Regions from separate parts of the Homo sapiens genome. Here region 1 is linked to region 2. The links come from fine-mapping of genetic effects on gene expression. A gene starts in region 2. The other region holds a variant in brackets. All regions are shown on one strand. Distances are from middle to middle.

Region 1 (11,423 bases), 19 kb before region 2:
CAAGGTCTTGCTCTGTCACCCAGTTTGGAATGCAGTGGCGTGATCACAGCTCATTGCAGCCTTGACCTCCTGGGCTCAAGCAATCCTTCCAACTCAGCCTCCAGGGTAGCTGGGACTACAGGAACACACCACCACGCCTGACTAATTTTTGTATTTTTTGTTAAGATGGGTTTTTGCCATGTTGCCCAGGCTGGTTGTCAACTCCTGGGCTCAAGCGATCTGCCCACCTCACCTCCCAGCATGCTGGGATTACAGGCATAAGCCATCATGCCCAGCCTACTATTGTTTAAAGTCCTAAAAAAAGATTTAAAAGATTTAGATCCATATACTTTTTCTCCAATGGAAAACAAAAATACATGCAAATTCACACAATTGCATATTTTAAACTCACAAAATAAAACCACGAAAATATGATAAAACAGTAGAAAATGAACATTGCCTTATTAAATTCTTTTCAGACCTACTTTCTGATTTGTTAAGTTGTTCACAGAATAACTATTTTCAGCCCAACTTTCCAATAAACAATGTTTACACATATGGCTGTGTCAAGAGAGGCCATAACCATTTAACCTCTCTGTGATTTAGTTGTGAAAAGCAGATTAGAAACTTCTGTCTAAACCCTTACCCCTTTGCCTCTGCTCCTTCCCAAAATCCAAGTCAGGTTCGAATAAAGAAAGTTAAAATGCATAAAACCACAGGGACAAAGAGAATGGGAAAAAAGACATAGAGATGTCAATAAAATTTGGGGAGATGACAGCTGACTAGCAAGTGATAACCAATTTTACAGGACAAAGAAAGCTGCTAACTCCCTTAAGTCAGTAAGAAGCAAGGTATTTTGTGCAGCAAAATCTCAAAAGGCTCAAAACCTCTGAAGGCTTGAGCAGGTATATAACTGAAAAAAAGGAGAACTGCTTGAATGCCTGTACGAGAACTAGCTAAGACCACCAGATTCTCCCTTACCTTGAAGACAAAGTTTATTCCATGATAAGGATGAACCTGAAGACTCTATAGACAATAGACACAGCTGTGGGCAGGGGTGAAGCCCTATACTCACAAAGACTAGGAGCATTAAGTAAAGTCTACATAACAAAATGTGAAATCCTGACATCACTCTTCTCACCCTTGGATCATGGCCAGACTTACTATACACATTGGGACCAAAATTAGAGGTTTGTTCTTTAAGGAAACCAACTTATACAACAGAAAGAATCCCAAAGCCAGGCACGGTGGCTCACACCTGCAATCCCAGCACTTTGGGAGGCCGAGGCCGGTGGATCACCTGAGGTCAGGAGTTCGAAACCATCCTGGCCAAATGGTGAAACCCAATCTCTACTAAAAATATAAAAATTAGCCAGGCATGGTGGCACATGCCTGTAATCCCAGCTACTTGGGAGTCTGAGGCAGGAGAATCACTGGAACCCAGGAGGCGGAGGTTGCAGTGAGCCGAGATTGTGCCACTGCACTCCAGCCTGGGAAACAAAGCGAGACCTTGTCTCAAAGAAGAAAAAAGAAAAAAGAAAACAAAGAAAGAATCCCAAGATACAAACCATTCCTGCACACAAACTTCAAAACAGCTTGAATATGAGAACTCAGCCAAGAAACAGGTATTTGAAAGACATGAAAGACAAAAACACTAAATAAATAGAAAAAAATGGAACTCTGAGCAAAACAATAACTAATGTGGGAAGCATGAGAATTATTTTTTTAAATCTTTAACATCCTCAAAGAACTAAAACATCACATCCAGGAATAGAAAACCATCTTTAAAAATTTCAGAAAATAGGAAAAGCTCTCAGATATTAAAAACACCACAGCAAAAAAAGGATCTAAGACACAGACTGGAGATGAGGTTGAGGAAATCTTCCAGAAAATCCAAAAAAAAAAATGAAAAATAAAGGAGAAAGTTTTTAAAAAAGTAGAAGTTTATTCTACAAAGCCCAATTGTCAACTAATAAATAAAAAGGACAAAGAAAATTAATAGAACAGAGGAAATTATCAAAGAAATAGAGAAGCAAATTCCCAAAATTGAGACCTGAGTTTCTGGATGAGATTTAAAAGGACATTACTGTGAAATTTCAGAACAAGCAGGGCGCAGTGGCTCACACCTGTAATCTTAGCACTTTGGGAGGCCGAGGCGGGTGGATCACTTGACGTCAGGAGTTCAAGACCAGACTAGCCAACACGGTAAAACCCTGTCTCTACTAGAAATACAAAAATTGGCTGGGCATGGTGGCAGGCGCCTGTAGTCCCAGCTACTCAGGAGGCTGGGGCAGGAGAATCGCTTGAACCCGGGAGGTGGAGGTTGCTGTGAGCCGAGATCACGCCATTGAACTCCAGCCTGGGCAACAAGAGAAACTCCATCTCAAAAAAAAAAAAAAAAAAAAAAGAAATTTCAGAACACTGGGGAAAAAGAGGATTCTAAAAGTTCTCAGAGAAAACAAAATCAGGTCCCAAAGGACTGGGAGTCAGAAATGGCACAGAATTCCTCAACTTACTTGCTGTGAGACAAGGAAGTAATTTACCCTCTTTGAATGTCAGTTTCCCCACTTGAAAGTTACAGGTAATTAGTAAAGCCTACCTTACAAAGTTAGGAAGACATACATGTAAACCATTTAACATACAGTACCTCTTGGCCTTCTATTAGTAGGCTACAAAGGTAAGTTTTACTAATATAAGCAACCCTTATTACAGCATCTCACTATAAAGATGCCTCCTCCACTGTTTCATGTTGCAAAATCCTTTTGATTTGAGCTTACTATTAAAATGGGACCCTGAAATGCCCTTGGTTCTCTCCCTTGTCTCAGCGGTTGTCTTATCAAAACTATCTGGTTTTCCCAAACACAAGCAGAATCAAAAGAGAACCACAGGAAAGAAAGAGGATCCTATCTGTTAACTAATTCTATTATTTTCAAGTCACTGCTGGAAGGAAGGGAGGGTCAAGAAAAGATGACAAGAAGTATGAAAATTTCTGTATTTGAGTAGTTTTGTTTTAAATTTGCAAAAACGTAATTAAACAAAAAGCCAGTGCTTCTCCATTAGCAATCTTTTAATGTAAAAAATAGTGTTCTTGATCCAGGCACAGTGGCTCACACCTGTAATCCCAGTATTTTGGGAGGTTAAGGCAGGTGGATCACTTGAGGTCAGGAGTTCAAGACCAGCCTGGTCAACGTGGCAAAACCTCGTCTCTACTAAAATTAGCCAGGCATGGTGGCACGCGCCTGCAGTCCCAGGTGCTCGGGAGGCTGAGGCACAAGAACTGCTTGAACCGAGAGGTGGAGGTTGCAGTGAGCCAAGATGGTGCCACTGCACTCCAGCTTCGGCAACAGAGCGAGACCCTATCTCAAAAAAAAAAAAAAAGTGTTATTTTAGATACTTAAACCTGAAGATGAGTTATACTTTATTTCTAAAATCAAAAGAAAAGCATCCTACCTCCTTATCTTGATGATAGTAGGAAAGAACTGGGAATCTTCCCTTGCTCCGGAACTTGGAACTACCAACAATTATTGGTTTGCTTGCTATCCGGGGAACATAAAGTTCTCTGGGGTAAGTTTCACAAATCTGTAAATATCAAACAAAACATAACCATTGTATTCTTAGTTCAAAACCACTTTAAAAACCTTTAAACCTTATTAAATGCAAGAACAGCACATTTCAGTACACAGACAACTTGCTACGCTGACACTCTCTAACCCTCTGGTACTAACACTTTCTGAATTTCTCCAAAATGTTGTTAAGGTACCTTGTAGTCCCGGTTGGCATCAGACAACTGCCAGTGTGAGTTTGGCACTCCCATCCTCTTATATTCCTCAGCGAGATCAATGAGCTGCCAGCCTTGTAGTCGTTCTGAATCATTTTGTTTGGGATTATAAGAAAATGCATAGAGATCTTCATATTTTGCTACAGAATACAAAATTTTAAATGTTAAGTGCAATTTATAAGACTTATACACTACAAATAAATGTAATTTTTCAGTTTTCTTCCTTCATTTTTCTCTTTACAATCTTCAAAGAGATGGCTAATACCTGAATACATTTGATGTTCAGTATGCAAATGATTATACCTAAAAAGCACACATATCAATCTGAGATTGGATTTGTCATCAACAAAAGTAAAGCTAATAAATACAGTCAGAATAGTTAGACTTACATGTTAAATCCTCTATTGCAGTATTTTTCTTAAAAGTAAAATGATAAAGACACTAATAGACATTTCCTACTAATCACTTTCCCAAATGAGATGTAAAATAGACTAATGTTATAATGAGAAGCTAGAGACAGATACAGAACATGAAACTGCATTATACATCCCTATAGGACACTGTTGACTAAAAATGGCAACTGTTGCACAGAACTCTTGGGGTGCTTCAGAATCATCCTTACTATAAACTCTGGCTTAATTTGAGACAATAGGATGTTACAGGCTGATGTGCTCAGAGAGAAGAATGAACAAAGACCTGCTCTGAGACCACTCTTGCAGGCAGCAATCCAGATTGCTCAACCAAAATCCAGTCCGACATATAATTCAAGTCATGTTTGGGGAAGGAAGTCACCAGATCCACAGGGCATAAGTAGCGATAAGATTCTTCTTTAGTGGCTCATGCCTGCAATCCCAACACTTTGGGAGGCCGAGGAGGGTGGATCACAAGGTCAGGAGTTCAAGACCAGCCTGGCCAAGATGGTGAAACCCCGTCTCT[T/A]CTAAAAATACAAAAATTAGCCGGGTGTGGTGGTGGCTGCCTGTAATCCCAGCTACTCAGGAAGCTGAGGCAGGGAACTGCTTGAACCTGGGAGGCGGAGGTTGCAGTGAGCTGAGATTGTGCCACTGCACTCCAGTCTGGGCGAGAGAGTAAGATTCCATCTCAAAAAAAAAAAAAAAAAAAGGTTCTTCTTTAGGACTGCTATCCCTCTCAACCTTACTTCTACTAAAATAGAATTCACCCTCTCTTGTTTCTCTGCTTATCTTCTGTATCTCCCACTCAAATCTATTAAATATTTTAGTCCCACTGCCACCAAAGGACCTTGACCTTCCTTTTATCATTCCGTAATATCAACTTCCAAGTCATTCTCTTTGATTGTGAAATACCCACTTAAAAAATACATTGTGCTACTTGCCATCAATAGACTTAAAAGATTAATATAAACCTGTGGTTTTGTAAGTCTCTACTATAAATGCTTTACTTTTTCCTTACCATTACCCCTTCTGATGACACCATTCTTATATCAGATCAATAGTTTCTAATTACTTTCAGGCCAATATGGGGGAGATAGAGTACAAAAGAACCTGACTGTCAGAGCAAAAAAGGATAAAATAACAATAATAAAACATTAAATAAAGTATCTTAGATAACCCATCTCAAATTGAGCATGTAAGCTTTGGTCTCTAAGAACAATACCTTGTTTTGACAGTTGTAGCAAAGAGTTGTAAATATCATGGCAATCTCTTTCTCTGGGAACAATGAAATGCACAGTTCTGAAGTTCTTGCACTGTATCACAAGGGGGCATCCAGAAGTAGTCAAAGCAAGTTTCTCTACTGAGGCAATATGGTGGTGTAATATCTACAGCATGAAAAAACATCCAGGTCATCAACATGGAAAGCACTAAATATTCTCTTCTAGAATGCATAAGTTTAAGAATGTCTTCCTCAAAAAAAGTTGAAAATGTTACATACTCACTCAAACTTCACGTTTTTAAAATGACTGAATGCCCAAGTCAGAAATATGGGTGTCACTCTGATCCCTCCTCCATCAGTCCACATACTCAAGACATTATCAGACCCTGGGAACTGCATCTCCTACATGTTTCTGTAACCCATCTACTTCTCTCTATCTCTACTGTCACATCCCTAGTTGTAATGTCCCCACTGTTTCTCACCTGAACTACTATAAACAAACAGCCTCCTAAATGCTCTCTCCATACCTACCCCTGACCCTCTGATCCATTTTCTACAACACAGTAGTGAACATTGAAAAGCAGATTAAGAAAAGGAAGGGAATCTAGTCATTTCCAGTCCCTCTCCCGATCACTGACTATGTTCTAGTGACAACAGCCTTCTTTTGGCTCCTCAAATGCACCGAGCTCCTTTACACATGGTCAGATGCTCCCACTAACTGGAATACTGTTAACACTACCTCTTCATCTAAGAACTTCTAGACACATTTCTGGTCTTTGCTCAAAACTCATAATAACACCAAAAGCGTAGCCTGACATGCCCCACAACCCTTTCCAAGTAAGTTAGGCCCCCTCCCTTTTCTTCCTGCAGATCAAGCTATACTTTTCCTTCACAGTGAAGGCCACTGTGAGGATGCCAGCTGCAGTGGGGGAGGTGCAGCCAGGGTTGCGCGCTCTGCAGAGCAGGCAAGACCTGGGAACAGGTGATCCCAGTGGAAGCCCCATACCCTACCGAGTTGGCAGGGCAGGAGCCACACTCCCGGGCACAGCTGCAGCCGCCCAGCCATGGCTCTGGACCCAGGCATCCCTGTGCTCTTGGGGGCCTAGGAAACCCCCTCCCCCTGCAGGTTCAGAAGTGCCTGCTCCCACTCCCTGGCCTCTCCCAACTCCCACTGCCTGTTCTGTGGTAGAGCAAAGTTGTGGACATGTCCCAATAGCCAAGCCCAGATACTGTCGTGATCTAGCTGGGTGTGCATGTGCTTGGGGCGGTACTGACACACCAGCCCCTAGCTGCCTTGGCCCCTCTGGAAACTGCTTCTGAGGCTGAAATTTTGGGTGCCCATGAGCACAGGAGGGAGGCTGAGGACCTTGGGGGTGGCATGGTGCAGAGTTGATCAACATTACATCTCCAGCACCTAACACAGTACCTGGAACATTATAATTGCCCTCCTCAAATCAAAAAGCTTGCAAATGTTATATATCACACACTTCAACTTTAATTTTTTAAATGTGAATGCCCAAGCCAGAAATATGGATGTCATCCCTGATACCTCCTTTATCACAATAAGAGTTTACTAAATGAATGAATAAAAAGTCCTACTATAAACTCAATACTTGATGGTATTTTAAACATATGCTTATTGTTCTCACCTACTACCAATAATATTTTGTTTGCTACTAAAAATGCCTACTTTTTCTTAATAACACTCCTATTAAAATATTTATAGAAAACTTTTCTGGAGAATAAAAGATCATAGGCTCCTAATCATGCAAGAGATCCATTTATCCCAAATTAATCTAAAAATTCAACATAAATTTCAGTTTAAAAATTCCAATCTGCTTTGTTTTGTAGTGAGGGATGATTATTTATATAATACACATATATTATGTAATTATTACATTATATGTTAATATTAATTATACATCTTAAATCTAAAGTTCACCTGCAAAATTAAATGCATTTAAATAATCAAGAAAAGCTTGAAAAACAATGAGAGAAGCAGTTGTCAATGGAAATTAAAACTACATAGAGAACAAATAATTAACACACACACACACATATATAGTCCTTACGGCTAAGATTTAGCACCATTATCACTTATATTAATGCGCCTGTGACAAGTTACTAAAAATGATCTAATAATAACATTTAAACAGAGAATAAGGAATAAAAGCTAACTGTAATATTACAAGTTGAGAACCCTTTATCCAAAATGTTTGGGACTAGAAGTATTTCAAATTTTGGATTTTTAAAGATTTTGGTATATTTGCATTATACTTATCAATTGACATCCCTAATCTGAAAATCTGAAATCTGAAATGCTCCAATGAGCATTTCCTTTGAACATCATGTCAGTGCTGAATTTTTGGATTGGGGATATTCAACCTGTACATCACTGTTCTGATTTTAATTATAAAAACCCAAAAGTATTTGCAGGAAGAAAATGATGAAGAAACCTGGTCCTACCACTAACTAGTTATGTGATTTTGAAAACATAATCAACTGTAAAGTGAGAAAAAGGATATAAGGTTGATACGGCCCCTTCTGGATCTAAAATGTTCATTTCTATGGCTCTAGTATATTAAACAAACTTCATTTAGGGCAAACATAAGGGAATATACTGATAAGAAAGCATTTAAAAGACAACAATAGGAGAGTAGAGAATAACACAGATATCTTTTTGTTGCCCCTCAAACTACATTCCCAGCAGCTGAGGGAATAGCTATACGGGAAGCCTTCATTTATATCTCTACGAGATGGATAATAGAGAAAATACTGAAGCAAGTGGACAAAGGAGGGGTAGATGGAGTGGATGATAATATGACTAATTATTTCAGAAGGTACTGCTAGGTAAAATTCCTGGCAATTCTTGGACAAACACTGGATGAAGAAGGGATCCAGTGCCTCTAGGGAATACAACTTCTCCAAGATCAGTATCTCAAGTGAGTTTCCTTAACAGCTGATATAGAATCATATATCAATTGGTTAGCCTTCTTGGGGAAATCAGAAGAGTACAATCAAAGAGAGAAAGAGAAGAGAACAGTATGACAGTATGTGCAGTACAGGGGTGTACCACAGAGCAACATCAATCTCTGGACTGGGAGGCATAATTGACCTCTAATCTTGATTCAACTGCTTAGAAAAATAGTATGAGCAGCTATGATTTACGCCACTACTATGTTTTACGCACAGATGTTTTTCATATTTTCTTTCATCTAAGACTCACAAAAGCCCTACATGATGACTGATGCTATATACCCATTTTATGTGGGTGCTAAGCTCGAAAGTTACATACTTTTTGGCAGACACTGTTGGTCTGCCATTCCTCCCCCCCTTCCTTACTTGCAACATCCTTTTCCCTCAAGAGATAAAAAATACTAGGATCTACATTCTCTGCCTCCTTTTCAGGTAGGAGTAGCCAAGTGTCCGGATTTTCAAACAATCAGATGTTAGGGAAAGTTAGCTGGGGGCCTTCTGAGAGAGCTTCTCCTCCCTGATAAGCAATGGGGCTACTGAGGAAAGCCTACCCACCTCTCCTGCTTTGCAAGGTTTGGCACCATGTTCAGTCAGGTATTCATTTACTTACAGCCAAAAGCACCCTGACATAGTCACCCAAGCAGTGAACAGCAGAGCTGACATTTGAACCCAAAGCTACCTGACAACACAGTCTACGTGAGCTCATTTTACTACTCTACACTGCCTGTGTAACAATGAATGAATTGCCACTTGCCTGAGCTTCAGCTTCTTCATCTATAAAGTGGAGGTTCTAAAAGCTGGCAGAGCTAGTGGCACAGAAACATGCCCAAGTCTCTTCCTCTCAGGCACAGAGACACAAGCCCCATATTCTAACCACCTTTCCTACTTCTTTTTCTGCTTAGCACTTATCACTATGTATTTTACTTATCTACCTACTTATTGGTGATGTTATCAATATCTTTCAGCACTAGAATGTTGGCTCCATGAGGATAGAATTTGTACCTGTTATTATTGGCTATTGTTTCCAAAATATCTAGAATAGTGATATGAAACACACTGTATATGCTCAATAAATGTGTGCTAAATGAATTCTAAAACAGAAAAGGAAGAACAAAGAATCCAAAATAGCCATGGCAATTTTGAAGAACAAGTTGGGAGGGTATGCTCTACTTGATATCAAAATTTATTTAAAAGCTATAGTCAATAAAACAGTGTGGTACAGTGTAGTCAGTATACCAAACGAATAGAAAAGAAAACTCAAAAGCAGAGCCTCACATACATGGAAGATGTTTTTATGACAGAGCTGGTACTAAAGACGAATGGAATGAAACAGTCAATAAATGGCGCCGGTCGTCTATACGAAAACATAAAAATGAATCCCTAGTCACATCATACACCAAAATATTTCCCAGATGTATTAACAACTTACAGGATCAAACTTAAGCTTTTAGAAGAAAATATAGAAGAACCTTTATGACTTTGACATAGGAAAGGATTTCTTAAGTCACAACAGAGCACAAACAATAAAAGAAAAAAATGAAAAATCTATAACATTAAAAATATAAACTTCAACTGAAAGACATATAAAATAAAAAACAGAGAAGACAAGCCACACACTGGGAAAAGCTATCTATGACACACACATCTGACAAAGCATTATAACCTAGAACTCTTTATTTGTTTTCTTGAATAATACTTTTTTTTTTAATTCAGTGGGTACATGTGCAGGTTTGTAATATGAATATACTGAATGATTCTGAGGTTTGAGCTTTGACTGAACCCATAGCCCAGACAGTGAACACAGTACCCAAGAGGTAGTTTTTCAACCCTTGTTCCTCTACTTCCCTCCCTCCCACCTCTATTAGTCTATTAATGTCTATTGTTCCCATCTTTGTGCTCGTATGTACCCAATGTTAAGCTCCCACTTATAAGTGAGAACACGCAGTATACGGTTTTTTGTTTGTGTTAATTCATTTAGAATAATGGCTTCCACCTGCATCCATGTTGCTGTAAAGGCCATGATTTTGTTCTCTTTTTATGGCTGTGGTGAATATGCACCACTTTTTCTTTATCCAATCCACTGCTAATGGGCACCTAGGTTGATTCCATAGCTTTGCTATTGTGAACAGCGCTGCAACAAACATGCAAATGCCCGTGTCTTTTTGGTTGATTTATTTTCCTTTGAGTATATATCCAGTAAAAGGATTGCTGGGTTGAATGGTAATTCTATTTGTAGCCCAGAACTTTTATAAAATCAATAAAAGACAAACAACCCAATAAAAAAAGAAAAGGAAACTCTTTCCTTTTTCTTTATCTGAAAAGGGTAAATTCTTTATAATCAGCTCATTAACATTACAATTGGACATCTACTAGATAGGCAAAAAATTTTAAATTGACAATATCAATGTTGTTGAGGATGTACAACATTGTGTAATACACTACTGAGAATAAATTGGAACAACCATTTTGAAGAGGTGACATACTTAGTAAGGTTATATATGCACTTATTCAAGACCCAATAATTTTACTCCCAGACAAATATCCCAGAGAAACTCTGGCAAATATACAGAAAGAAACATATACATATGTCTCATATAAATACACAAAATGTTGTTTACATGTATATGTACATTGCAACATTTATACTAGCAAAAAAAATAAGTACCCTAATTAAAATTTGTATAAAAACACTGTGGAATATACCAAACAATCCGTTTGATCTGTTAATGTGTACATATTTTTTAGATTTTTAAAAATTAAAAGGAACAATAGGATTTTTTTTTTTTTTTTTTGAGACAGAGTCTCACACTGTCACCCAGGCTGGAGTGCAATGGCGCGATCTCGGCTCACTGCAACCTCCGCCTCTCAAGTTCAAGCAATTCTCCTGCCTCACCCTCCCAAGTAGCTGGGATTACAGGCACCCATCGCCATGCCCAGCTAATTTTTTGTATTTTTAGTAGAGATGGGGTTTCACTATGTTGGCCAGGCTGGTCTTGAACTCCTGACCTCGTGATCCACCCACCTCGGCCTCCCAAAGTGCTGGGATTACAGGCGTGAGCCA
Region 2 (11,423 bases):
CTGGGACAGGAAGGGACCAATGGCCTTCTTCAGACTTCTGTGACCAACAGTTGTACTTATTCTACAACTACATAACAATAGACGCTGTGGCTACTGAAGCAGAAAGTGCACCATCACTGTTCCTCTGGCTTGTCGCACTCCTTCCCTATAGCCAGGCACTCATCTAGGACTCTCAGAATCATTTCACACTGACATCCTGCCAAGAATTAGCTTTCAAAAAGAAAGCACATCAAGTTGTGTGCAGGAAGTGGAGGGCAGAGATTATGGTTTCTGTTCATGTATCCCAATTTCTAGAACAGTGTCTGGCTGCATAAATTATCAAATGAAACAGTCATGGACCTCAAGAGGGGAGAGAGTAACCTCAGATCGTAAATCCAGTGGGCACTTTTCAGTTTTTTCTTACTTTGCTTATTCCATCAATGGCTTCCTATCTCACTCAAAAAAAGCAAAGATTTTACAGTGGCCTTCAAGACTACAGTAACTTGCCCCTGTCCCCCAACTTTAATCTTCTACTGTGCTCTTCTTCACTCACCCTGCTCTAGCTGTCTTGCTTGTTCTTAGCAACCAGGCATGCCCTCAAAGGGTTTTTGCCCCTGTTGTTCCCTTTGTTGGGACTCTCCCCGCCATCCCCCATGTGGGGATGGCTTACTCCCTCACCAGTTTCAGGTTTATACTCAAGAGTCACCTTCTCTGTAAGAGCTTCCCTAACCACTCAATTTATAGCAGTCCTCCCTTAAACCCCCTCCTCAACCCTCATACTCTTCAGAGCCCTGGCTTGCTTTATTTTTATCCACAGCATTTACCACCATCTAACATACAATACATTGAACTTAATTTTGTTTATTGTTACCTCTTCTCCAACTAGATAAGTTATAAGGGCAGGAGTTTTTGTCTGAACCTAGAACAGTGCCTGGCCCAAGGAGGAGGAAGCAGCCAGAGGATGGAGCAGAGAAGGAAATTAGAACACGGAAGACTGTCACCTTCCCATCTGTGCTTCACCTCTTCCAAATGCATCCGGCTTCTCCTCCTCTGCTTGCTCGCCCTCTTCTTTTTTCTTTTTTCTTTTTTCTTTTTTTTTTTTTGAGACAGAGTGCTGCTCTGTGACCCAGGCTGGATGCCGTGGCACGATCTCGGCTCACTGCAATCTCCATCTTCTGGGTTCAAGTGATTATCATGCCTCAGCCACCCAAGTAGCTGGGATTACAGGTGCCCGCCACCATGCCCAGCTAATTTTTTGTATTTTTAGTAAGACAGGGTTTCACCATGTTGGCCAGGCTGGTTTCAAACTCCTGACCTCAAGTGATCCTACTGCCTCGACCTCCCAAAGTGCTAGGATTACAGGTGTGAACCACCATGCCCGGCCTGCTTGTCCCTTTTTAAGTGTTTAGACTTTTCTCCACAGAGTCTCAACATATTCTCCTTGCATAAACTCATTCACAATAGAAATTTCAATGATTTACCTAAACACAAACAACTCCCTCCCAAATCTACTCAAGGCCAGACCTTTTCCCTCACACTAGATCCTCACATTCAGCTAGCTACTAGAAAAAAATCTGACCACCTAAGCTTCTTCTATCCACCCCTCCTCTCTGTTCTTACTCACACTGCCCCAACTGACTAATCAAATCTCTTGATTAGATTATTATTCTGTGAGGCAAGAGAGTGTGGTTAAGAGAATAGGCTTGCTATCAGAAAGACCTACATTCAAGTTCCCACCTCCACCTCTTCTTTGGTAGAACTAACTGTGTGAGCCAGGACAAGTTATTTTATTAATTCTCTCAGGGTTTCAGTTTCCTCACCTGTAAAATGGGATAGTATTAGTGAAAATCAAAACAACACTTTACTTGGAAAAAAGCATTCAGGTGCTCCTCAAAACCTATTGGCTTTTATTTCAAAGACAATTTAAATAATATCAGTTTCTCCTTATTCTTGATCCATTCTTATTTTTATATCTCCTTTCTTCTTTCAGAGGGAAGGTATATTTGTATACATACATAGATGATCTCACATTCTAATGACAAAAAGAGGGAGCAAGCTAAAGAACATGTTAGGCATAACTTTTGGAATAACTCAATTTGGGCCTTAGTAGGATCAGATTTTTATGGGACATTCCATTTGATTACAAACGCTAGCAATCAGCCTTTCATTTATAGCTTAAAAAAGGTTCTTCCATTCCATTCAGTAAAGTTCCATTCACAGGTAAGACAATATCATTTGACATCAATATATAATGTCAGCCAAAGTACTGGCAGGGAAAGGAGAAAGACTGCATAAAGAACTGTCTCTGCATATTTCTCATTGTTTCTTGGCAGGACTATGTCATTATGGCAAAATGAGAGCTCAAAGCGATAGGTAGTAGCTGCATGATTCATAAGTGTAGCTTGGAAATGCTCTTTCAGAAATCCAGATTCAGGGACTTGGCATCTTTGATGCTATACAGTTAGTAAACCAAATGTGACCAAAACAGAATGATAAATATGTTCATTAGTATTCAGCTAAAATACTTAATCTGATAAATCTCTGGTTAGCAAGCAATAATGATCCTAAATATTATTTAAAAACAATACCGCATAAATATTATTTATTTATGACAAAAAGAGGTTTGGGGGGGAAGCTCTTAGAATTATCATCAGCATTTATTTCTGAATTAATACTAATGCACATTTAACAATTAGATTAAAACTAGAGAGGCACTGGAAAGAGCATACATAGTCTTTGGAGTTAAACACACCTTAGTTTAAATACTAATTCTATCTCTTGTGAACTAATTGAGCAGGTTACTTAAATTCTCTAAGCCTATTTCCTCCTCACCTATAAATGGAGATAATACTACCCAACTGACAGGGTTATTTAAGAGATCAGTGATGATAATGTATAAATTAACAGATTTATACAATTGTACATATTATAAAGTAATAATATTGTATAATTGGCTATATTGACATATAGTTGCTCAATAAATGGTAATTATTACTTTTCAAATAGAGCTGACTGAACAACAAAAATCACTAAATAGTCATAAAGGACACTCTACGGTCAATTTTGATCCTAATGACTAAACTACATAGAGGTCAAAACAGCTAATAAATCTAAAACAATCCACTTTTGCTTTTTAAATACTTACACTTATTTTTGCAGCAAACTAACTAAATCCAGGTGAAGGCTATGCATAATGGAAACAAAAGTTTGGCTATGTTCAAACCAATCTTTTAAAAGTAAGTTATTTCCCAATACATTAATAATTTAAGAACATGTTACAGTCCCCACAACAATTAACAGAATGTACCCTGAGGTCCACCTCTATCTTGCTGTTATATACCCAGTGTCAATACAGTGTCTGGCACATACTAGGTACCTAGAAAATATTTATTTGCGGTCTACATACACTCACTTAATATTACTCCAGAGTAGTGATCCAATACTAGAAAAACAACCCAAAGTAATAAAGGAGCATATTTGAAAAGTAGTTTTAATAGACAATTCATCAGAAATTTCTTAGTCTCTAAAAAGGCCTTATTAAACCACTAGCATGAGACCACTGTGTAAAGATAAGTCAAAATCAGAGCATTACTTGAAGAAAAGTTCATCAGTTGGTAGATAAGGAGGAATATCAGACAAAATGAAAGTCACCAGTGACAACTTTCAAAGAGCTAATAAGAGGGGCTACAACTCTACAAATAAAAACAAAGATATATATTCATAATAAATTGAATGAGGAAAGATTTAAAATAACCAAGGGATCCTAAATATTTTCCAAGTCTGTTCACTCTTATCATCCACCTAAGAATAGGATTTGCTCTAGTTGATCAGATTCAGTTTACTTTTACTGATTTTTTATTCTTTTCCGCCCCCCCCCCCCCAATTATGTCACCCAGGCTGGAGGGCAATGGCGCAATCTTGGCTCACTGCAACCTCCACTTCGTGGGCTCAAGCCATCCTCCCATCTCAGCCTCCCGAGTAGCTGGGACTACAGGTACATACCACCCCACCCGGCTTTCTTTTTTTTTTTTGAGACTGAGTCCCGCTCTATTGCCCAGGCTGGAGTGCACTGGTGCCATCTTGGCTCACTGCAATCTCCACTTCCCCGGTTGAAGCAATTCTCCTGCCTCAGCCTCTGAGTAGCTGGGATTACAGGCGCCTGCCACCATGCCCGGCTAATTTTTGTATTTTTAGTAGATATGGGGTTTTGCCAGGTTGTCCAGGCTGGTCTCGAACTCCTTACCTCAAGTGATCCGCCCACCTCGGCCTCCCACAGTGCTGGGATTACAGGCGTGAGCCACCGTGCCCAGCCTTTTACCGGTTTTCGATTGTGTGCTATGCACCGTAGAAAGCATATGAAAAATAGAGGAGCTTCGAACTGATGCAGAAGGAAGTCACGTGCACTTAGCTACTACATAATACATATCTGGAACCAATACAAGAACCTGATCCAATGTCCACTCTAGTCCTCTTTTCCTCTGTGCACCTTCTACGAGTTTGGTTATAGACTTAAGCACCCTTCCATTTTCAAAATTTAAGTACCCACAACTTGAATTCTCAAGTTATTTTATCTTTCTTCTCTTAAAAAAAAATGTTAAGGGGTTAGTTTTCAGAATCTTCAATTTTACTAGATACGGTATGCACAATGTTAAAGACAAGCTCCAATAAAAATTTATGTATACCTTTAAAAGGTTTGTGAAACATTTAAAAAATTTTTAAAAACACAAATTCTTCTTGGAACAATGAAGATAACGAACATCTGTGGTTCCCTAAATGAGCCGTAATTTTAAGATGGGCAGCAACTAAAGGGCTTCAGCTTTGCCAAAACGTCAAGAGGCTGCCTTGCAGTGGGCTCGCAGTGATTTTAAAATGTTATTCTTCTCGTCTCGATTTATGTTTTTCTCCCTCTCAAAGTTAAACTTAAATGTCGTTGGAAACGTAATTTGGTAACATTCTGATGTCATTTCCTTCCGTTTTTAAATTTGTAACGAAATAAAAATATTTGTTCGTTCTCAAAATGAAGGTCTTCCACACACAAAAATTAAGCATGGAGTGCAATAAGGTCAATCGAATAAAGCTGCATCCGACCTTTTAAAATATGGAATAACATTTTTCCCTTCTCCAGAACTCTTGACTACTGACACAGGACAATGCCTGAAGTATGAAGCACAGACACGGAAACACCGGATGCGAAAGACTGGAGACCGAGACAGCAAAGGGAGGTGGAGCGGAGTGCTGATCTCGGTTCCTCCAAAACTCGTACTGTGAATCTGTGACACGGGACAATGAAATGTGAGCAAGGACAAGCTTACACAGCATCATAATGTTAATTTGAAGACGGTTTTCCGGTTGATGAGGCAACGAAAGGCTGAAAGACTCCAAAGTTAAAGGAGCCCCAATTTTGCCCGAGAAAACGTAGAGCTAGGAGGGCGGTGACCAGTTTTCCCAGACTTATCTCTACGCACTCCAAGATGCTGAAAGTGGGACCCCTGCTCCTGTAGGTACAGGAGGCCTCTGCACCCCGCTTGGCCCAAGCTAACCCTGCCCTCCCAGACCAGGCCTGGCCAGACCCTCCCGCCCCGGGCCGGGTCTCCGCCGGGCCGGCTCCCAGCCCCAGTCAGGCCAGCAGAGCCTTCGTCTCCTCCTGCCTCAGCCGGGTCAGAGCAGGGCCCCTGAAGACTGGCGATCCCGCGCCCGACTACCTTGGTCGTCCGGATATGCTCCATCGCAAGGAGACGTCAGCCGGCAGCCGGTCTCACAGGCGTACCATACGGCTACAGAAACAGGGCGGTGACAGCGACAGAGAGCAAGCGGGAACTCCCTCCACCAGCCAGCGCCGCGGGTCTGTCTGCCGGCCCCGGTGGCGTCAACGGCGCAGGTGCAGCCGGTGAGCGCCGTCTCCTAGAAACACTTCCCCAAACCCCGCGGCCTCCCGGGGGACTCGGGGCAGGCAGACAGAGCGTGTGTGGACCGAGAGCGGCTTGCTGGTTCGTCCCGGACAGCGGCGGATCCCACAGCGCCCCCTGCTGGAGGAGGCCGGTACTGCTCACCACCCCACCCGAGGCGGTCTTTGTCATCCCGCCGAGCGGACGCGCGGGGCGGTCGGGGAGGAAGACTGCGTGAGAATGGATCCCGAGTAAAGGGTTCTTGTGGGGTGAGGGCAAGAGTGGAGGATGTTCTGAAGTCCATCGCCATACCACTGGACAGCACCAAATTTAGTTTGAGCTGCAGTTCTACTCATAAGAATGTATTCTAAGGAAATAATCAGATTTGGAGTTATTATTCTAAGGAAATAACCAAATAAGGAAACCAGCCTTATTTGAAACAATCAACTCTCCAATCCTACGGATTCCTTATGTAAAGTATGATGATTAGCTAGTCCTCAATCTGGTCTGGTGTCAGAGTCCCGCCTCCTACCTCAATTTCATACGATGTTAGCACCAGCATCCATTAAAACTCATCCTGTAGAGGGATATCACATAACGAAAATGTTAATGCTGCATTACTGAGTGAAGAAAAAACTGACTATGGAACAATAAGTTCAATGTAGCCGTGCTCTGTAATTTTTATTTATGTAAACAAAAAGTTTACATTTCTAGGTGAGGGTTACAGGTAATTTTTGTTAGAACACGTCTAATGTGGTACTTCTCAGCCTGGAGTGAGTTTTCTCCCCGGGGGACATTTGGTAACATCTGGAGATATTTTTGGTTGTCTCAAATGGTGGTGGTGGGGGGGTGGCGGCGGGGGGCAACTGGTGGGTGGAGGCCAAGTCACAAGTCGGCTGCTGAACACCCTACTAGGCACCAGACCAACCCCCCAACTACAGGGAATTATCCGGCAGATGACAACAGTGCAGAGGTTGAGAAACCCTGCTCTATGCCAGGCGCGGTGGTTCACGCCTGTAATCCCAGAACTTTGGGAGGCTGAGGCGGGCGGATCACTTGAGGTCAGGAGTTAGAGTCCGAGAAACTCTGCTCTACGTTTTGTAAGTATTCTGTACTAAGCCGGTTAAGGTTTGTAATCTTCATCTTTCATACTGTGATTGGTGTTAGAAAAGCCTAACATCTAAATTTTCTTTTATAATTAAAAATTTTGTTTCACTTATTTGTTTCATTTTGTTCAAGTTGTCTTGGTTTGTTTTGTTTTGAGTGCCTACGATGTTTCAGACAGATTGCCAAAGCAATGGAGATGGTTATTAAACACAACAGCCTTTGCGGTGGAGTTGCTGACTCCTCTAAGCTAAATATGTAATAAGAGTTACATTAAACCACCTAGAAACCAACCTTAGTACAGTATCACATCCACCCCCTCCCCCCGAAAAAAAACCCCACAAATCCTGCTCAGAAAAAAAAAAAAATATATATATATATATATATACACATATATATATATATATATATACATATATATATATATACACATATATATATATATAGAGAGAGAGAAAAGTAATGTAGGTCTTTACTGAGGATTGCTTTTTGAGAAAACAGAAAGAGGTGAATTGTATAGCATACAGCAAGACTTTCTTAACAAAACTTTTTATATCATTTTCCTCCCAATTTACAACTTCCTCCTTCCCCATTCCCCTACAGATTATCCTCCCTCTTCTCATCTCCTCACTTCCTGTGTCCTCTCTTTACCAATTCTCACAGAGAGGCAATCATAATGATGTCAGGTGACCAAATGTACTGAGTGCTTTACGGGTATTCTGAGGAAAATGCTATTGCTTTCTTTATTTTAGAGATGAGACAAGCGAGACACAATGAAGTGAAGTAACTTGCCCAATATCACATAGCAGATAAAGCCAAGATCCATGTTATAAAGCCAGACAGGCTGACTTCAGAGTCTGTATTCTTAACAACTGTTTTACATTGATTTGCTTCTCAAAATCCATATTAAAGTTCTATTTATGTTAATATGATAGGCTAGAAAATTACCTAGCTTTACAGAAAGAAAGTAAAATAACAGATAAAATATTAAATGACGTTTCTTTGACTCTTGAGTTGAATACTCTTGCACTAGATAGAATATTCCTTATGGTTAAATCTGGCAATCACTCAGTTCCATTATCTTTCCTCGAGACATCTCTTTAGAGGTCTCCAGATGCTTCTAGGAGCCTTTTCTCCTTTTGCTCCAGTTTGCACTTGTGTTCTCTGAGCCTACTGAATGGATATTATCCTGGGACTCTCCTCACCATGGGCCTGAGAAATGTGTTGGTTACTTGTGCTGAATTTTTAGATCCTGTGGTTTATCTTTCTTGATTTACTTACTTGCATTGTTTTATTCTGATGTAGTATATTCTGTATTAACTTCCTGAGAAAGGGTGAATGGAGCATAAATCCTTGACGGGAAGTTTGGCTAGGTCTAGAATTCTGTAATTTTAATTAGGATTTTGAAAGCTCCCAGAGACATATCCTGACTTTCAATGCAGTTGTTCAGAAATCCGCTGGCATTCCGATTTCCCTTTAGGTGTCGCTTCTACTTTCTCAGGATGCTTTTTGGATCTCTTTATCTCCAATGGTCTAAAATTTCAACATAATAAAACTTAGCTTTCTTGTTTATTTTTCTGCCCAGTGTTTTGAGCTCTGTAATCTGAAAACATAAGTCCTTCAATTCTGGGACATTTTCTTGTATTATTTCTGTAATAATTACTGTTTCGTTCTTTTTCCTTCTTCCTTTTTCTTTTTTCCCTTTAAAAATTTTTTTTATTCTTCTCACCTCTCTTCTCTCCCTCATCTTTCTTCTTTCCTATTTCCCTCCTGTCCTTTCTCCTTTCTTTTTATTTTGTTTTATTTTTATTTATTTATTTTTGAGACAGGGTCTCACTGTGTCACTGAGGTTGGAGTGCAGTGGCACAATCTCAGCTCACTACAGCCTCAACCCCTCAGGTTCAAGCAATCTTCCCACCTCAACCTCCTGAGTAACTGGGACTACAGGCGTGCACCACCAAGCCTGACTAATTTTTGTATTTTTTGTAGAGACGGGTTTTTTCCATGTTGCCCATGCTGGTCTCAAACTCTCGGGCTCAAGTGATCTGCCTGCCTCAGCCTCCCAAAGTGCTGGAATTACAGATGTGAGCCACTGTGCCCAGCCCCTTTCTTTTTTCAGTAGAAATTCCTGGTCTGACTTCCTAATTTTACTATTCTTTCACTCCTATTTTTTAAGAATTTACCTTTCTAATCTACTCTCTAGGAAATTCTTAATACTTCATTGTTTCTAATATTTTTAGAATACTCCATTATTTCTAATATTTTTAATTGCTGCAATTATATATATGTACATGTGTGTATGTATGTGTATGTATATATATATACACACATATACATGCACATACATATATAATTGTAGACAAACCTTGTGCTCAGATCTTGGATTCTTCTTTTTCTTCCTTTTTTGTCTACTGAGCACAAGGTTTGCCTCCCAAAGTGCTGGGATTACAGGCATGAGCCACTGTGCCTGGCTTATATTTTTAATTTCTAAGTGTTTTCACTTTAAATAGACTTTATTTTTATTTATTTATTTATTTTTTAGAGATGAGGTCTCGCTATATTGCCCAGGCTGGAGTGCAGTGGCTGTTCATAGGTGTGATCATAGTGCACTACAGCCTCAAACTCCTGGGCTCAAGCAACCTTCCTGTCTCAGCCTTCTGAGTAGCTGGGAATACAGGTATGCTATACCACAAGATGCTCCAGGCTCATCTTGCATCTTTCCCACCCCAGCCCTAGAATCATCCATTTCCCCAAGGAGCCCTGGTTCCTTTTATTGGAAAATGTTATTAGAATCCAAGATCTGTTCTGAACCCAAGATGACCTAACTGGAAAAAAAAAGAATCCAAAATCTGAGCACAAGGTTTGTCTACTAGAATGTTATTGTTTCTAAGTGAAGAGATCTTTTTGGTTACATACATTTTCCTATTTTTCTTTGTTTTTCAGTTTGTTCATTTATTTGTTTTCTAGCCTCCTGCTCTGATACATGTAAGAGCTCATCTCTCCTAGGTGAATAATAGTTTTCATTTATTTATGTATTTCTTGTAATTTTTGCTTCCTGAACCCTATTCCTTTTAGGTTCTCTCTACGTTTGCTGTTTTGGTCTCTGACTTTGATGTCAGAAGCGATCCTCCAATATCTAATCATCTTTAATGGTCCTTTCCAGCAATAAAATGCTGATTGGAAACTTACTCTTTATAGGAGAATTTGCCTATTGTTAAGCTTCATTATTGAATGATGGGGTAGGGGCTTGGTACTTTTGTTGGGGGTCCCTACATCATTATTTGAAGACCCTGTGCATGTGAAAGGCACAGGGAGCTCTGGGAACAGATGTCCTGTTAGCAGCAGTAGCTGAGTAGAAGCCCCAGTCAGGTACCATATATAGGATCCAGATGATCCAGGCCATCTGCCTCTCTGTTGCCAGCTCTCCCCTTGGTGATTACTGCAAGGAACAAAGAGACCCATTTCCCCTCAATACAAGGGGTGGGAAATGAAGAGACATTGGAAAGAGAAGAGGTTCATTCACTAATATTTGTTTTATTGTTAGTAATATTTATAAAGCACACGATCCAGTTTCAGAGGATTCAATATGCACCTGTGTTCCTACATTCCTATCCTTCCCTTTAAAAATGTTGACATACAATAAAATTCATCAGATTAAGCATTTTCTGCTGCCTGATCTCATCAATTATGCCAAGAGCACACTTAATACTGTTACAATTCAATTGAGTAGTCCACTGCAACTTACAAACTAATCTGAAGGAAGATAATCAGGAAGAGACTTGTTTTTAGGGTTAGTTAGACTGGTGAATATCAAAATACCAGTGTAATCATTGACCACAAGAAAGCAGATGGGAATGAAAGTCAGCATGTTCTCTTCCTATAAAGCGTGGGGGGAGGTCACATTACAGTTGAGAAGATTGCTTAGTTAGCATGAATTCAGAGCAGGGGAAACTAGCTGCATGATAGGAGAGGCTGTTGCCATTCAGCAAAGATCTTGATGCATCAGCCAGCCTATCAGGATGTACCAACCACAAGAAAAGGCAGGAGGGGCTCTGGGCCAGGCAAGCCTCTGGAGGCAGCCCTGAAGATTCATTATTTGAGGGAAATATTAGATTTCCCTAAACTAGGCCTCATTATTGAACAATCCTCCCTCTAAGGGCCCTATTCTGCCTTTAGATATGCCATTTCATCTGCTAGGTTCATATCAAGATGTGGTATAGAAGCTATGCTGTCTTTTTAAGGAGACATATCTGTAACTTAATTAATTTTGTTTTAATGTATATATTTATAATTTCCTTTATCATCCAACTTCTAGGAGACATCAGGTTTTTTCTTACATGTGCCTACAAAAACAACTTAAAATAGTGACATGACTAATATTTGATGATTTTAAGAAAATATCATTTTCTTAATTGACTTTGCAATTAAAGACGGAGTTTTTTTGCACAAAAAATT

What was found. PIP is the estimated chance that this variant, and not a neighbour inherited with it, causes the effect. A credible set is the group of variants that fine-mapping cannot tell apart.
Region 1: its variant is the best candidate, but not a certain one, in a credible set for the expression of MTMR6 in thyroid (GTEx, PIP 0.80).

The regions. Positions count from the first base shown.
Region 1 is chr13:25,262,390-25,273,812 of GRCh38, forward strand. MTMR6 (myotubularin related protein 6) reads right to left here. Exons shown (of 14, transcript NM_004685.5): 3 at 5,390-5,552; 4 at 3,740-3,897; 5 at 3,430-3,558. Among named protein-coding and RNA genes, the nearest start is that of MTMR6, 19 kb to the right of the region's middle. The variant T/A (reference allele first, on the strand shown) is at 4,694.
Region 2 is chr13:25,281,543-25,292,965 of GRCh38, forward strand. It overlaps MTMR6 (myotubularin related protein 6), which reads right to left and starts at 5,946. Exons shown (of 14, transcript NM_004685.5): 1 at 5,682-5,946. The coding sequence starts at 5,705. RefSeq lists enhancers at 5,326-5,946, 5,650-5,989, 6,090-6,259.